Regions from separate parts of the Homo sapiens genome. Here region 2 is linked to region 1. Evidence: fine-mapped expression QTL. Tissue or cell type: coronary artery. Region 1 holds a variant in brackets; the other region holds the start of a gene. All regions are shown on one strand. Distances are between the middles of the regions.

What was found. PIP is the estimated chance that this variant, and not a neighbour inherited with it, causes the effect. A credible set is the group of variants that fine-mapping cannot tell apart.
Region 2: CALCRL-AS1 starts here. The variant in region 1 is the best candidate, but not a certain one, in a credible set for the expression of CALCRL-AS1 in coronary artery (GTEx, PIP 0.73).

The regions. Positions count from the first base shown.
Region 1 is chr2:187,530,376-187,538,235 of GRCh38, forward strand. The region is part of intron 1 of TFPI (tissue factor pathway inhibitor); the gene reads right to left. The region is part of intron 3 of CALCRL-AS1 (CALCRL and TFPI antisense RNA 1); the gene reads left to right. Among named protein-coding and RNA genes, the nearest start is that of TFPI, 20 kb to the right of the region's middle. The variant G/A (reference allele first, on the strand shown) is at 3,854.
Region 2 is chr2:186,998,750-187,006,609 of GRCh38, forward strand. It overlaps CALCRL-AS1 (CALCRL and TFPI antisense RNA 1), which reads left to right and starts at 4,524. Exons shown (of 6, transcript NR_187179.1): 1 at 4,524-4,616. It also overlaps the pseudogene IMPDH1P7.

The DNA.
Region 1 (7,860 bases):
TATGTAATATTTACCACAAGATTTTAGGAAAATGATCAGTTATTATCATGAATATGAAAAAAGTTGGAAAGACATTCCCAATGGCAGCAGAGAGAAAACCTGGTAAATCCTACCCATATTGTCAACATTATCTCTTCACTTTTGGCATCGTCCCCTGACTTAATCACATGAATGGAATGGAAATATTGCTTCTATATAAAATCTCTACTCAAGTGGTGTCTTTCAGAGCGTAAAATAACTTGATGGTTACGTTCTCTTCCTTCCTATGCTTTTTAAATCACTGTACCTCTTCCTGTGTTACACATTATATATTTATTTGCTTACTCTGTCTTTTCTCTCAAATGTAAGCTCTTTAAATATGGGAATCATGTTTGTTCTTTCTGGTACCCTCTGGAACTCAATGGATATTTGTGAAATAAATCTTTTATGAATTAAAAATTCGGTAAAAATTGTTTTATTTTGTATTTTTTTTACAGAAAGTAAAAGGTCACTGGAGAAATTTAAAACAAATATATAAGCTAAAATTATTTTAAATGGTATGAATAAAAGTGAATATAATGGGTAATGGGCCTCGAGTATAAACTAATCCTTTATTAGGGAAGACAATTATTACTTAACTAATCATTTTTCCTTTCTTCCACCTTTGTTTCTCACAAAACCTGTCCATATTCTGTACTCATAAAATGTATTCTCAAAACTTCTATTAAATGGACAGTAATGGAGTCACAGCAGCATCTGGCCACAACTGACTTGCCAAGGAGTCAATACCTTTACAGACTCAGGCTAACTACTGTCTGTAGAAAGGTGTGTGGTATAGAGTTCTACAGAGGGCCAGTACTAGAGAGGCTGCTGCAGTAAACTTAGTTGTTTATATTTTAGTTTCTGGCTTAGCTCATGACTGTAGAGTCTCTAATATACTCTATATTCTACCAAAGAATTCCAAATTGTGCTTTCAAGGTCTTATTATATAAAATGTTTATTGTGTCTGAATGAATTCAGTCCGACAATGAATCATTAAAATGTGATGTATTTTATCAGCACCTTATTGATGTAATAATTCGTTTCTTTTTACAGTTATTACAAGTGTCAATAACAGAAAAATATTCACAGAAATTTTTCTGTTTTTTTGCAACCATTTGATTATAAATAAATTTTCATATCAATTTTTCTATTTAAAAATATCGATAGCATATTCCTCTTTTGATATGATTTATATGATCATGATAATCGTACAAGTTCTATGTCAACCAAAAATTTTATTTTTCCTCATCTCTGCAATGGGAAAAATTAAAAAAGGTTTACCAATGCAGTCACCTAGAAATTGACCATTTTATTTATGTTTGATGCCATTTACAAAAATAGTTTATTTTTCATGTAAGTGATACATTGACATGTCTAAAGACAGCATTCTATTTGATATTATTAAAATTGTATTCATTATAGTTAAATAAAATTTTTCTATGACCTTTTATAATACACTTAAATACTTTCTTCCAAAGGTAGAAAGGATTGAGAGAATGAAGATTTCTTACCAACTGCTTTTATTTAAAATTTTTTTTTCAAAATTGGAGGATTCTATTTATTTTTAGCTACATATTTAACTAACTGTTCTATTCTTTTAGTATTTAAAATATTAAAACTGTCTTTTTACACTGGAAAAGTAATACATGTGTATTTTTCCAAATCATAAAACATAAAGCAGAATAAAGAAAATACAGAATAACCATCAATCTGCCTATTCAGAAGCAACCTCTGGTTGTATATGATTTCTTATGCATGTTAATATGTATAAGTGTGTGTATATGTGTGATTATATTTATATGAGCATATGTGAATGATCATTGCACATATATTGTTTGGTAACCTCCTTTGTCATTGAATGAGATAATATTGATAACTTTTGAGTTGCAGGCAAGATGGCTGAATAGAAACAGCTCTGGTCTGCAGCTTCCAGTGAGATCAATGCAGAAGGTGCGTGATTTCTGCATTTCCAACTGAGGTACCCAGCTCATCTCATTGGGACTGGTTAGACATTGGGTGTAGCCCATGGAGGGCAAGCCGAAGCAGGGTGCTGCGTTGCCTCACCTGGGAAGCACAAGGGGTCAGGGAACTCCCTCCCCTAGCCAAGGGAAGCCGTGAGGGGCTGTGCCATGAAGAACAGTGCATTCTGGCCCAGATACAACGCTTTCCCCATGGTCTTTGCAACCCGCAGACCAGGAGATTCCATCGCGTGCTTACGCCATTGAGGCCCTGGGTTTCAAGAAAAAAATTGGACAGCCTTTGGGCAGTCACCTACCAAGCTGCGGGAGTTTTTTTTTTCATACCCCAGTGGCGTCTGGAATGCCAGTGAGACAGAACCATCATCCCCTGGAAAGGGGGCTTAAGCCAGGGAGGCAAGTGGTCTAGCTGAGTGGATCTCAGCCCCATGGAGCCCAGCAAGCTAAGATCCACTGGTTTGAAATTCTTGCTCCTAGCACAGCAGCCTTAAGTCGACCTGGGATACTCCAGCTTTGTCAGGGGAGGGGCATCCGCCATTACAGAGGCTTGAGTAGCCGGTTTTCCCCTCACAGTGTAAACAAAGCCCCAGGGAAGTTCCAGCACAGCTCCTCAAACCCACTGTAGCCAGACTGCCTCTCTAGATTCTTCCTCTCTGGGCAGGGCATCTCAGAAAGAAAAACAGCAGCCCCAGTCAGGGGCTTATAGATCAAACTCCCATCTCCCTGGGACAGAGCACCTGGGGAAGGGGTGGATGTGGACACAGCTTCAGCAGACTTAAACATTCGTGTCTGCCAGCTATGGAGCGAGCAGCGGATATCCCAGCACAGTGTTCGAGCTCTGCTAAGAGACAGACTGCCTCTTCAAGTGGGTTCCTGACCCCCGTGCCTCCTGACTGGGAGACACCTCCCAGCAAAGGTCAACAGACACCTCATACAGGAGAGCTCCAGCTGGCATATGGTGGGTTCCCCTCTGGGATGAGGCTTCCAGAGGAAGGAATAGCAGTAATCTTAGCTGTTCTACAGCCTCCACTGGTGATACCCAGGCAAACAGGGTCTGGAGTGGACCTCAAGCAAACTCCAGCAGACCTGCAGCGGAGGGACCTGACTGTTAAAAGGAAAACTAACAAACAGAAAGGAATAGTATTAACATCAACAAAGAGGACATCCACACAGAAACCCCACACAAACGTCACCAACATCAAAGACGAAAGGTACATAAATCCAGAAAGATGAGGAAAAACCAGCACAAAAAGGCTGGAAATTCCAAAAACCAGAACATCTCTTCTCCTCCAAAGGATCACAACTCCTTGCCAGCAAGGGAACAAAACTTGATGAAGAATGAGTTTGATGAATTGACAGAAGTGGCTTCAGAAGGTGGGTAATAACAAACTCCTCCAAGCTAAGGGAGCATGTTCTAACCCAATGCAAGGAAGCTAAGAACCTTGAAAAAAGTATGGAGAAATTGCTAACTAGAATAACCAGTTTAGGAAAGAACATAAATGACCTGATGGAGCTGAAAAACCCAGCATGAGAACTTCGTGAAGCATACACAAGTATCAATAGCTGAATCAATCTAGTGGAAGAAAGGATATCAGAGATTGAAGATCAACTTAAGGAAATAAAGCATGAAGACAAGATTAGAGAAAAAAAAGAATGAAAAGGAATGAAGAAAGCCTCCAAGAAATATGAGACTGAATGAAAAGACCAAACCCACATTTGATTGGTGTACTTGAAAGTGACAGGGAGAATGGAAAGAAGTTGGAGAACACTCTTCAGGATATTATCCAGGAGAACTTCCCCAACCTAGCAAGACAGGCCAACATTCAAATTCAGGAAATACAGAGAACACCACAAAG[G/A]TACTCCTCAAGAAAAGCAACCCAAAAACACATAATCATCAGATTCAACAAGGTTGAAATGAAGGAAAAAATGTTAAGGGCAGCCAGAGAGAAATGTTGGGTTTCCCATAAAGGGAAGCCCATCAGATTAACAGTGGATCTCTCTGCAGAAACTTTACAAGCCAGAAGAGAGTGGGGGCCAATATTCCACATTCTTAAAGAAAATAATTTTCAAGCCAGAATTTCATATCAAGCAAAACTAAGCTTCATAAGTGAAGTATAAATAAAATATTTTACAGACAAGCAAATGCTGAGAGATTTTGTCACCACCAAGCTTGCCTTACAAGAGCTCCTGAAGGAGGCACTAAATATGGAAAGAAACAATCGGTACCAGCCACTGCAAAAACATAACAGATTGTAAAGACCGTCAACACTATGAAGCAACTGCATCAACTAACAGGCAAAATAACCAGCTAGCATCATAATGACAGGATCAAATTCACACATAGCAATATTAACCTTAAATGTAAATGGGTTAAATGCCCCAGTTAAAAGACATAGACTGGCAAATTAGATAGAGTCAAAACCCATTGGTGTGCTGTATTCAGGAGTCCCATGTCACGTGCAAAAACACACATTGACTCAAAGTAAAGGGATAGAGGAATATTGACCAAGCAAATGGAAAGCAAAAAAAAAAATAAAAAAATAAAAAAAATCAGGGGTTGCAATGCTAGTCTCTGATAAAGCAGACTTTAAACCAACAAAGATCGAAAGAGCCAAAGATGGGCATTACATAATGGTAAAGGAATCAATGCAACAAGAAGAGCTAACAATCCTAAATACATATGCACCAAATACAGGAGCACCCAGATTCATAAAGCAAGTTATTAGAGACCTACGAAGAGATTTAGACTCCCACACAATAATAGTGGGAGACTTTAACACCCCACTGTCAATATTACACAGATCAATGAGACAGAAAGTTAAAAAGGATATCCAGGAGCTGAACTCAGCTCTGCAACAAGCAGACCTAATAGACATCTACAGAACTCTGAACCCCAAATCAACAGAATATATATTCTTCTCAGCACCACATCACACTTATTCTAAAATTGACCGCATAATTGGAAGCAAAACACTCCTCAGCAAATGCAAAAGAACGGAAATTATAACAGTCTCTCAGACCACAGTGCAATCAAATTAGAACTCAGGATTAAGAAACTCACTCAAAACCATACAACTACATGGAAACTGATCAACCAGCTCCTGAAGGACTACTGGGTAAATAACAAAATCAAGGCAGAAATAAATAAGTTATTTGAAACCAATGAGAATAAAGACACAACATACCAAAATTTCTGGGACACAGCTAAAGCAGTGTTTAGAGGGAAATTTATAGCACTAAATGCCGACAGGAGAAAGTGGGAAAGATCTAAAGTTGACAACCAAACATTGCAATTAAAAGAACTAGAGAAGCTAGAGCAAACAAATTGAAAAGCTAACAGAAGACAAGAAATAACTAAGATCAGAGCAGAAAAGAGGGAGATAGAGACAGGAAAAACTTCAAAAAATCACTGAATCCAGGAGCTGGTTTTTTAAAAAGATTAACAAAATAGACAGACCGTTAACCAGACTAATGAAGAAGAAAAGAGAGAAGAATCAAATAGACACAATACAAAATGATAAAGTGGATATCACAACTGATCCCACAGAAATACAAACTACCATCAGAGAATACTATAAAAACCTCTAAGCAAATAAACTAGAAAATCTAGAAGAAATGGATAAATTCCTGGACACATACAACCTCCCAAGACTAAACCAGGAAGAAGTCAAACGCCTGAATAGACCAATAACAAGTCCTGAAATTGAGGCAGTAATCAATAGAATACCAACCAAAAAAAGCCCAGGACCAAAGAAATTCACAGCCGAATTCTACCAGAAGTACAAAGAGTAGCTGGTACTATTCCTTCTGAAACTATTCCAAACAATAGAAAAAGAGGGACTCCTCCCTAACTCATTTTATGAGGCCAGCATCATCCTGATACCAAAACCTGGCAGAGACACATGCACAAAAAGAAAAATTCAGGCCAATATCCCTGATGAATATCGATGCAAAAATCCTCAATAAAATACTGGCAAACTGAATCCAGCAGCACATCAAAAAGCTTATCCCCCACCATTAAGTTGGCTTCATCCCTGGGATGCAAGGCTGGTTCAACATATGCAAATCAATAAACTTAATCCATCACATAAACAGAATCAATGACAAAAACCACATGATTATCTCAATACATGCAGAAGAGGCCTTTGATAAAATTCAGCATGGCTTTATGCTAAAAACTCTCAATAAACTTGGTATTGATAGAATGCATCTCAAAATAATAAGAGCTATTTATGACAAACTCACTGCCAATATCATACTGAATGGGCAAAAGCTAGACACATTCCCTTTGAAAACTGACACAAGACAAGGATGCCCTCTCTCACCACTCCTATTCAACATAGTATTGGAAGTTCAGGCAAGGGCAATCAGGTAAGAGAAAGAAATAAAGGGTATTCAAATAGGAAAAGAGGAAGTCAAATTTTCTCTGTTTGCAGATGACATGATTGTATATTTAGAAAACACCATCATCTCAGTCCAAAATCTCCTTAAGCTGAAAAGCAACTTCAGCAAAGTCTCAGGATACAAAATCAATGTGAAAAAACCACAAGCATTCTTGTACACCAATAACAGACAAACAGACAGCCAAATCATGAGTGAACTCCCATTCACAGTTGCTACAAAGAGAATAAAAGACCTAGGAATACAACTCACAAGAGATGTGAAGGACCTCTTCAAGGAGATCTACAAACCACTGCTCAAGGAAATAAGAGAGGACACAAACAAATGGAAAAACAGTTCATGCTCATGGATAAGAAAAATCAATATCATGAAAATAGCCATACTGTCCTAAGTAATTTATAGATTCAATGCTATCCCCATCAAGCTACCATTTACTTTCTTCACATATTAGAAAAAGCAAACTACTTTAAATTTCATATGGAACCAAAAAACAGTCTATATAGCCAAGACAATCCTAAGCAAAAAGAACAAAGCTGGAGGCATCACGCTACCTGACTTCAAACTATACTACAAGGCTACAGTAACCAAAACAGCACGGTACTGGTACAAAAGCAGATATAAAGACCAATGGAACAGAACAGAGGCCTCAGAGATAACGCCACACATCTACATCCATCTGATCTTTGACACACCTGACAAAAACCAGCAATGGGGAAAGGATTCCCTATTTAATAAATCGTGTTGGGAAAACTGGCTAGCCATATGCAGAAAACAGGAACTGGACCCCTTCCTTATACCTTACACAAAAATTAACTCAAGATGCATTAAATACTTAAATGTAAGTCCTAAAACCATAAAACCCTAGAATAAAACCTAGGCAATACCATTCAGGACATAGGCATGGCCGAAGACTTCATCACTAAAACACCAAAAGCAATGGCAACAAAAGCCAAAATTGACAAATGGGATCTAATTAAACTAAAGAGTTTCTGCACAGCAAAAGAAACTATCTTCAGAGTGAACAGGCAACCTACAGAATGGGAGAAAATTTTTGCAATCTATCCATCTGACAAAGGGCTAATATTCAGAATCTACAAAGAACTTAAACAAATTTACAAGAAAAAAACAACCCCATCAAAAAGTGGACAAAGGATATGAACAGACACTTCTCAAAAGAAGACATTTATGCAATCAACAAACATATGAATAAAAGCTCATTATCACTGGTCATTAGAGAAATGCAAATCAAATCCACAGTGAGATACCATCTCACACCCATTAGAATAGCAATCATTAAAAAGCCAAGAAACAACAGATGCTGGAGAAGATGTGGAGTAATAGGAATGCTTTTGCACTGTTGGTGGGAGTGTAAATTAATTCAACCACTGTGGAAGACAATGTGGTGATTCCTCAAGTATCTAGAACCAAAAATACCATTTGACTCAGCAATCCTATTACTGGG
Region 2 (7,860 bases), 530 kb before region 1:
TCTTATTGCTGTATAGTATTTCATTATATGAATGCATCACATTTATTTATCTAGTCCCCAAGTGAGGGACATTTGTGTTGTTTCCAGTTTCTGATGAAACTAACACATTTGTTTTAAAATTACCATATTTGTGTGAATGTGGGTTTTTATCACACTTAGGTAAATGCTAAAATGTAGGGTTATTGAGCTATATGCTAAGTGTATGTTTGACTTTATAAGGCATTGTTTTCTAGAGTGGCTGTGCCATTTTGCATTCTCTTCAGCTATGTATGAGAGTTTCTGTTGGTTTGCATCTCTGCTAGCACTTGGCATTGTCAGTTTTTTTGTGTGTTTTCTTTTATAGGCATTCTAATAAATAAGTAATTGTAATTTTCATTTAAATAAAGTAAAAGATAATTTTATATTATCTTTTAAATATATTACTGGATTCAGATTTTTGAGGATCTTTTTTGTTTATGTTCATGAGAAATAGTGCATTGTAGTTTACTTTTCTTGTAATATTTTTTGTTGATTTTGGTATCAAGGTAATCTTGGTTTCATAAAATGAGTTGGGAAATATATACCCCTCAGCCTCAGCTTCCTTTTCTGGAAGAAATTATGTGAAATTAGTATTATTTCTTTGTTAAATATTTAGTAAAATTTACCATCTGGGATTAGAGTTTTTATTTTTGGAAGTTTTTAAATAAAATATTTAATTTTCTACTAGATGAAGACATAGACAATTTACTATTTAGTGAGTTTTGGTTATTTTACATTTTTCAAGGAAGTGGTCTATCACATTTAAGCTGTTTAAATCATGGGCATAGAGTTGTTGGTACTATTAGTCTTTTAATATCTGTGGAGTCTGTGGGAGTACATGTCTTTCATTCCTTACATAGTTAATTTTTGTTTTCATTTATTTCAAAATATTTTTCAAGTTCCCACTCTACTACTTGTTTGACTCATGGTTTATTTAATTTTCAAATATTTAGGTGCTTTACAGATTTTTTTCTGTTACTCGTGTTTGGAAAATATAATGTATAATATATACAAAATATAATTTGATTTTTTCTGAATTTGTTGAGGTGTTTTATGGTCTATGTTGGTGAATGTTCCATGTGCACTAGAGGAGAATATGCATTCTTCTACTAGTGGGCAAGAGTGTTCTACAAATGTCAATTAGGTCAAGTTGGTTGATAGTGTTGTTCATGCCTTCTGTGTCCTTACTGATTTTCTATCTACTTGCTCTCTCATGTCCATTACATTTACATACATTGGAACCTTTCTAGAAATGTTATAAAATTTGATTTCAAAAGTCATATATATTTTTATAAACTGAGAGGAGAAAAACATTAAATTATATTTATTCAGATACCCAAGCATTTCTTTTGCTTTATCCTCATTCTTAAGGTTACAAGTTTCCCTTTGTTATAATTTCCCTTAAGTCTTGTTTGGGTTTAAACTATTTTTCTGAACTTCTTGAATTTTTTCTGTAAATTTATATTTTTCACTGAACTTGGAGGAAGTTTTTCATCCACTATATCTTCAAATATTTTTCTTCACCAATCAGTTTTTCCCTTTACTTCATAGATGCCAATGACACCACTACTAGATTTTTTGAATCTTGTTATTATATTATCTACAGGCCCTAGAGGCTCTGGCCATTTTCATTTTCAATCTTTTCTCTCTGTTATTTAGACTAGATAATTTTTATTGATCAATTTTTAAGTTTACTGACTTTTTCCTCTGTCATCTCTATTCCTTATTGAACCTGTCTAGGAAATTTTAAAATTTCAAGTGTTGTGTTGTATTTTTTACTTTTTAAATGTCCAGTTTTTCCCTTTTCTTTTTCCAGTAGTTTCTATTGCTCTGTTAAGAACGTCTTTATTTCCATTAATTTCAAGAGCGTTCACCTTTGCCTCATGGAGCATGGTTATCATAGCTACAATAAAGTCTTTTTTCCAACATCTGGATCATCTTAGATTTGACATTTGTTGATTGTTGTTTCAGTGGAAAACAGGTCCAATTTTTTTTTTATTATTTGTATGTTGAGCAATTTTGCATTGCATCTTCAAAGTTTTGAGTAATGTGTTGTGAGAGTCTGCATCTTGTTAAAATCTTCTGAAGTTTTTTTGTTTACTAATAAATCCAGTTGGGTTCAGACCATGAGTTCTATCTTGCCTTCCACTGGTGCTAGTTCGAATGTCAGTTCAGGGTTTAAAGTCTTTATTGTTATCTGAAACAGTCAGGGATTAGTATAAGACTTTGGAGCTGATTCACAGACAATTCTTAAAGCTTTTGCTATGCTGCTTTGGATGTGTTCCATTCAGGCAGAGTTTGGGGGTACACCAGGGAATTTTCTTCTTCACTTCTTATTTATTTATTTATTTTTTATTTTTATTATTTCTTTTGGAGGTGTTGAGACCTGCTTGATTTATTCCGATTATTTAATACACAATTATACAATTGTGATCCCAAACTGTGCAAAGTGAGCCTTCAACTGCAGCTGAGGAGAGGGCAGGAATGATATACCTGGGGACGGTGGTGAGTCAGGAATGACGGGAAGGTGGCCATGATCAGGGAAGCCTCCTTCCCAGGGCCAGGGACAGGGGAGTGGCCTGAGGAGCAGGACCCAAGGGTAGCCCAGGGCCGGGGAAGTGGGCAGAGACCTCCCGTTGGCCTAGGTCAAGAGCTCAGAAGTGCCACATGGCTGAGGGGTTAGTGGCCCAGGAAGTGCCAGAGGCAGGGCCAGGAGAGCACCATTTCCTCGGGGGCTGGGGGCAGGGAGGTGCCCTACAGGAGAAGCCAGGAGGGGCCTCTTGTCCCTGTGGTGGGGGCCGGGCTGGAGCAGGCTGCAGCAAGAAAGACCTGAGGCATGCGCAGGGCCTGAGAGCCTGGCTGGCTGGGCTGGTGTGTGTGTGTTGGGGGGTTCCCAGGGCACTCTGGCCCAGGGAGCAGTTCTGATTCTGCAGGCGATGCCCAGCAAGAGGCTGCAGACCCCTCAGAACTTCCCCTCCTTTCTCCCTGGAAAGGAGCTGGGGAACCTATAGTGCAAGTCTGTGGACCACTCAGTTATGGAGGGAGGCTGTGCCTGAAAGTGGACACTGCGGTATGCCCCTTCCACCACCTTGGCCTCCACTGCTGTCCTCAGTACAGCCGCTTCTCCTAAGAGTGCAGGCCATGGACGCCACCCTTGATCTGGGCCGACATGGTTTGCTTCTCAAAATTCAGTTCTCCTGAGTACATCATGGACTGAAGGACAGACAGGCTGCGGCCCAATATCCTGGCAGCCAGGCTGGATGCCCGCTATGAGGTAGGACACGAACTTATGAATGGATCCTTTGTCCTGGATGGAGCCCAAGACACCCTGCGCGATCTTCACCTTATTCCCCTTGCTGACGTATCATTTCTGGCTGCTGCTGCTCTTCTCCATGGCATCCAGTGAGCCCATGCCCTGGTACTTCTTGAGCCGCACCCCATCTGAGAAGAAATACTCGCCGGGGTCCTACGTGGTGGTGGCCAGCAGGGAGCCCATCATCACTGTGGAGGCTCCAAGGGCCAGGGCCTTAACCACGTGCCCCACGGTCTAGATGCCGCCATCGGCTATGATGGACACACCAAAGCACAGGGCATACTCGGCCACCTTGTACAATGCAGTGCCCTGGGGCCCACCGCAGGCCATCACTTCCTGGGTGATGCAGATGGAGCCGCAGCCCATACCTATGCGCAGCCCGTCCACCGCAGCGTCAATCAGGTTTTTGGCCTGGGCGGCTGTCATCCCAATCACCTGGAGGTGGGGGTACTTCTGTTTGATGTAATGCACCGTGGCAATCTGATACACCGAGTTCCCTTGGGACAAGTCCAAGACTACGACGTCTACCCCCGCCTGGGTGAGCAAGTCCAGGCGGTATTTGTCATCCTCAGGGGTGCCCACAGCTGCCCCACGCAGTAGCTGCTTGTGGGAATCCTTGGAGGCCAGAGGGTAGTCTCTGTTCTTCTTCAGGTCGGTGCAGGTGATCATGGCCACCAGCTCATCGGATCATTGACGAAAGACAGCTTCCCTTTCTTGCTATGCTGCAGGATCTCATTTGCCTCTTTCAACATCAGGCCTGCTGGAGCCAACACTGAGGAGGGTGGTGTGGTCCTCCTCAGCAAGAAAGTTGATGTCTCTGGAGGTGACGATGCCCACCAGCTTGCTGCCTATGGTGCCCGTCTCAGTGATGGGGATGCCAGAGAAGCCATGCCGCATCTTGGCCTCCAACACATCACCCACAGTGTGCGAGGGGGTCAGCACCACCGGGTCCGTGATGAAGCCCTGTTCAAACTTCTTGACCTTCCGCACCTCCTTGGCCTGGAACTCTGGGGTGCAGTTGTGGTGAATGAAACCAATACCTCCCATCAGAGCCATTGCAATGGCTATGTCGGCCTGTCACAGTGTCCGTGGGGGAGGAAATGAGCGGAGTCTTCAGCGTGATCTTCCGGGTCAGGGCTGAGGTCAGGTCCGCCTCATCAGCTATGAAGTCTGTGAATCCTGGGAGAATCAGGAAGTCGTCGTAGGTGAGGCAGTCGGCGCTGGCAAAGAGCTGCTGCGCGGGGAGCCAGTTATCGGGCACATAGTCGGTGCCGCCCCTGATCAGGTAGTCCGTCATGCTGCCGCGAAACCCTGCGACATCCGCGCGCAGCCGCCTGCTGCTGCTGCCCCCGCGCTGCGGCCATGCTGCCGCTGCGAGCCGGGCGGGGCCGCTTCTCTCTCTCTCTCTCTTTTTTTTTTTCTTTTTAAATAATTTTCTCTCTCAGAGTCTGTCTCTCAGGGTCCTCTTTTCCCAGTCCCTCTGGCCAGGAGTCTTCTAAGTTTTCCACACAGTTGCACAGTTCTGTGTTATTGGATATACCCGGGGGATGAAGTAATGAAAGAAAAGACTGAAAATAAAAATGGGAATTCCTTCCACAGTCTTTACACACAGAGGCCCCTAGAGGCCCATTTTCCTGGTTCCTCTGTCCAGAAAGATGGATTTCTAGGGCTTACATTCATGCTGCTGCCTCTACATGCACTGAAGCTGGTCAATGAAGCTGGCCTTGGGGCAGAGGGAGAGAAAAACACATTGGGATTTCACCTTCAACCTCCACTTTCCACCTCTCAGGGTCCCAGTTTCTTAGTACTCTGACAGAAAACCAGGGTTTTCTCAAAGTTTTTGCTGTCTGTTCCCATCACATTGTTCCCTGATTTGGCCCATCCTTAAGCCAAGACCAGATGATCTTGAAGGAAAATATCCTAGGAAACTCACTATTGGCATACTGGTCATTTTTTGAGTTTTGATGTCGCTCCTCAACCTCCTTGCTATTATTTTGTTTCGGAATCATCCTCAGGTAAGTGTTTTAGTATTTTGTCCTGAATTTTTAATTGTAATGAGTGAAAGAGAAAGATTCTAGCAGGCTTACTTCATCTTGGCTGGCACCTGAAGTCCATCCATAGGATATATTTTTAAATTGTTCATGTACTTGGCCACAAAGAAAGTCTCTAAGAGTTGGTAACACACAAAACATGTTCTCTGAAAACATTGCAATAAAATTAGTAAAGAATGCCAAAATGTGCTTTTCCGAATATTTTATAGCTTAAAGCAGAAATCAGATTGCAATTTATAAACTATTTAGATCTGAAAAACAAGAGAAGCACAACTGATAGACTACAACAAAAAGTATACTCACAGGAAAAATGTTAACCTTAAATGTCTGTACTAGGACAAAACAATTGGAAAATTATTAGCTAAATATTTAACTGAGCAATGATTAAGTGAAGAAGTTAGAAAAATAGTAAATCTTAAGAAGGTAGAAAGAAGTAATAATAACAGAAATAAAGGAATTTAGAAAACCAAGCCACAATAGGGAGATTCAGCATAGAATAAAGTTTGTTTTTTAGAAAAGATAAAAAACTTACACAAACCTCTAACAACATTAATCAAGAAAAACCAAAAATAGTCTACATTTTCATATTAAATTATTGAATAGTAAATTATGTATTAATATTTAATATAAAAATATAGATGTAATGGAATATTTCCTAGAGAATTAAACCTTATTAAAATCGATCCAGGAAGATATTTTAAAACTGAATACACTTACATCCATTAGGGAAATGCAATCAGTTGGGAAAATAAAAAGGAGTCCTAGTTATTGACATGCTTTTATCAAACTATCAGGCAATACGTAACTATTAACTTTTAAATTTTTCTAGAGAACAGATAATGTGTTCCTGGTCAGACACTTACTAACTGTATTCCTAGGTAAATGCTTAACACTCTCACTGGCTTAATTAGGATAATGACCAGAGTACCTACCACATAGAACTGTGATGATTAAATGGCAAAAACAAAAGAGATATGCTAAGAGCACTGACTGACATATAGTAAGTGCAAAATAAGTGTTAGCTATTCTTTTCTTCTTATTATTATGGTACCAAAACCAGAAAAGGTTAGTGCTTAAAAGAAATTCTTTAGACCAGTATTACTTAATATAGATGTAAAGATACTAAGTAACACATTAGCTAACTAGATTCAGCAAAATATTAAAAATGCATCATGGCCAAATAATATGTATTCTAGGATTTCAAGGATGACTTAATATTAAAAATTTTGTTAATCTTAATATATTACTATGTTAACAGATTAAAAGAGAAAAAGTTTATGATTGATTCAGTAGATTCAGAAAACTCATGCAATAAATGCAGCACCCATTTGTAATGAAAACTTTTCACAAACTGGGAAAAGGAAGGTACTTGCTCACTTACCAAAGTGTATCTAAACCTGTAGCAAATACTATTAATGGTGAAACCTTACAAGATCTCCATTAAAGTAGGGAGCTATGCAAGAATTTTATAGGAGTTCGTAATTAATGCAGTAAGACAAGGATAACAAGTAAGAAGAATGAGAATTGGCATGGGAGAAACTAAATTTCATTATTTGCATATGATGTAATTATGTATATATAAAATCTGAGATGGCTTATAAATGAATTATTGGCACTAATAAGAGGTCAGCATGTTCCTGGATATAGAATGAATATATAAAAATCATTGACATTCTTATTTATTCCCTATATGCTTAAACTGTTACAGAAACTAAGATCAAATTCATAAGAGGTACAAAAACTAAAAGGTACCTGAATATTTACTGAAGGATATGAGAGAATGCCAAAAAACTGGATATTAATTGATGGGAAAAGTTAATACTGTTAGGAAATAAATTCTCCTCCAATTAATTTACAAACCCTATATAGTATCAGTTAAACTAACTCTAAAATTTCTTTGGAATGTGAAAGGATCAGGAATATCTAAGCCTTTTTTTTAGTGAGAAAGGAGAAGACATTCTTTGCAGATATGAGGAGAAACTGTAAAAGTGTAAGTATTCAGCTGTCTTACTATTTGTACAGGCTAGACAAACCAACTAATGGAAAGGAACAAAGAACCCAGACAAAGACTTATGCATATGTAAGAACTCAGTTCAGGCATTATTAATTGGTTGTGAAATAACAAAGTTTTAAATAAATGGTTCCAGGTAAAATTAATTATCCTTATTAAAAATTTGCAATTCATAACACATTAAAATAAATTCCAGATAGATTAAAGACCCCAATATGAGAAAAAATTTATAAAGATTTTGGAAGGAAATATAGGAGAATCACATATTTTAAAGAGGATGATAATAAGCACAAAAGTTTAAAGAAAATTATTGATAACCTTGACCTTATTAAAATGTAAGGCTCTGTAATACAGGAGACATTGAAGAAAGTTAATAAAAAATAATAATTGAAGAAAAGCAATTTATGACGTTTGTAACAACAAAATATTGGTATCTTACTATAGTAAAAAAGTCTTCTGAAAATGAA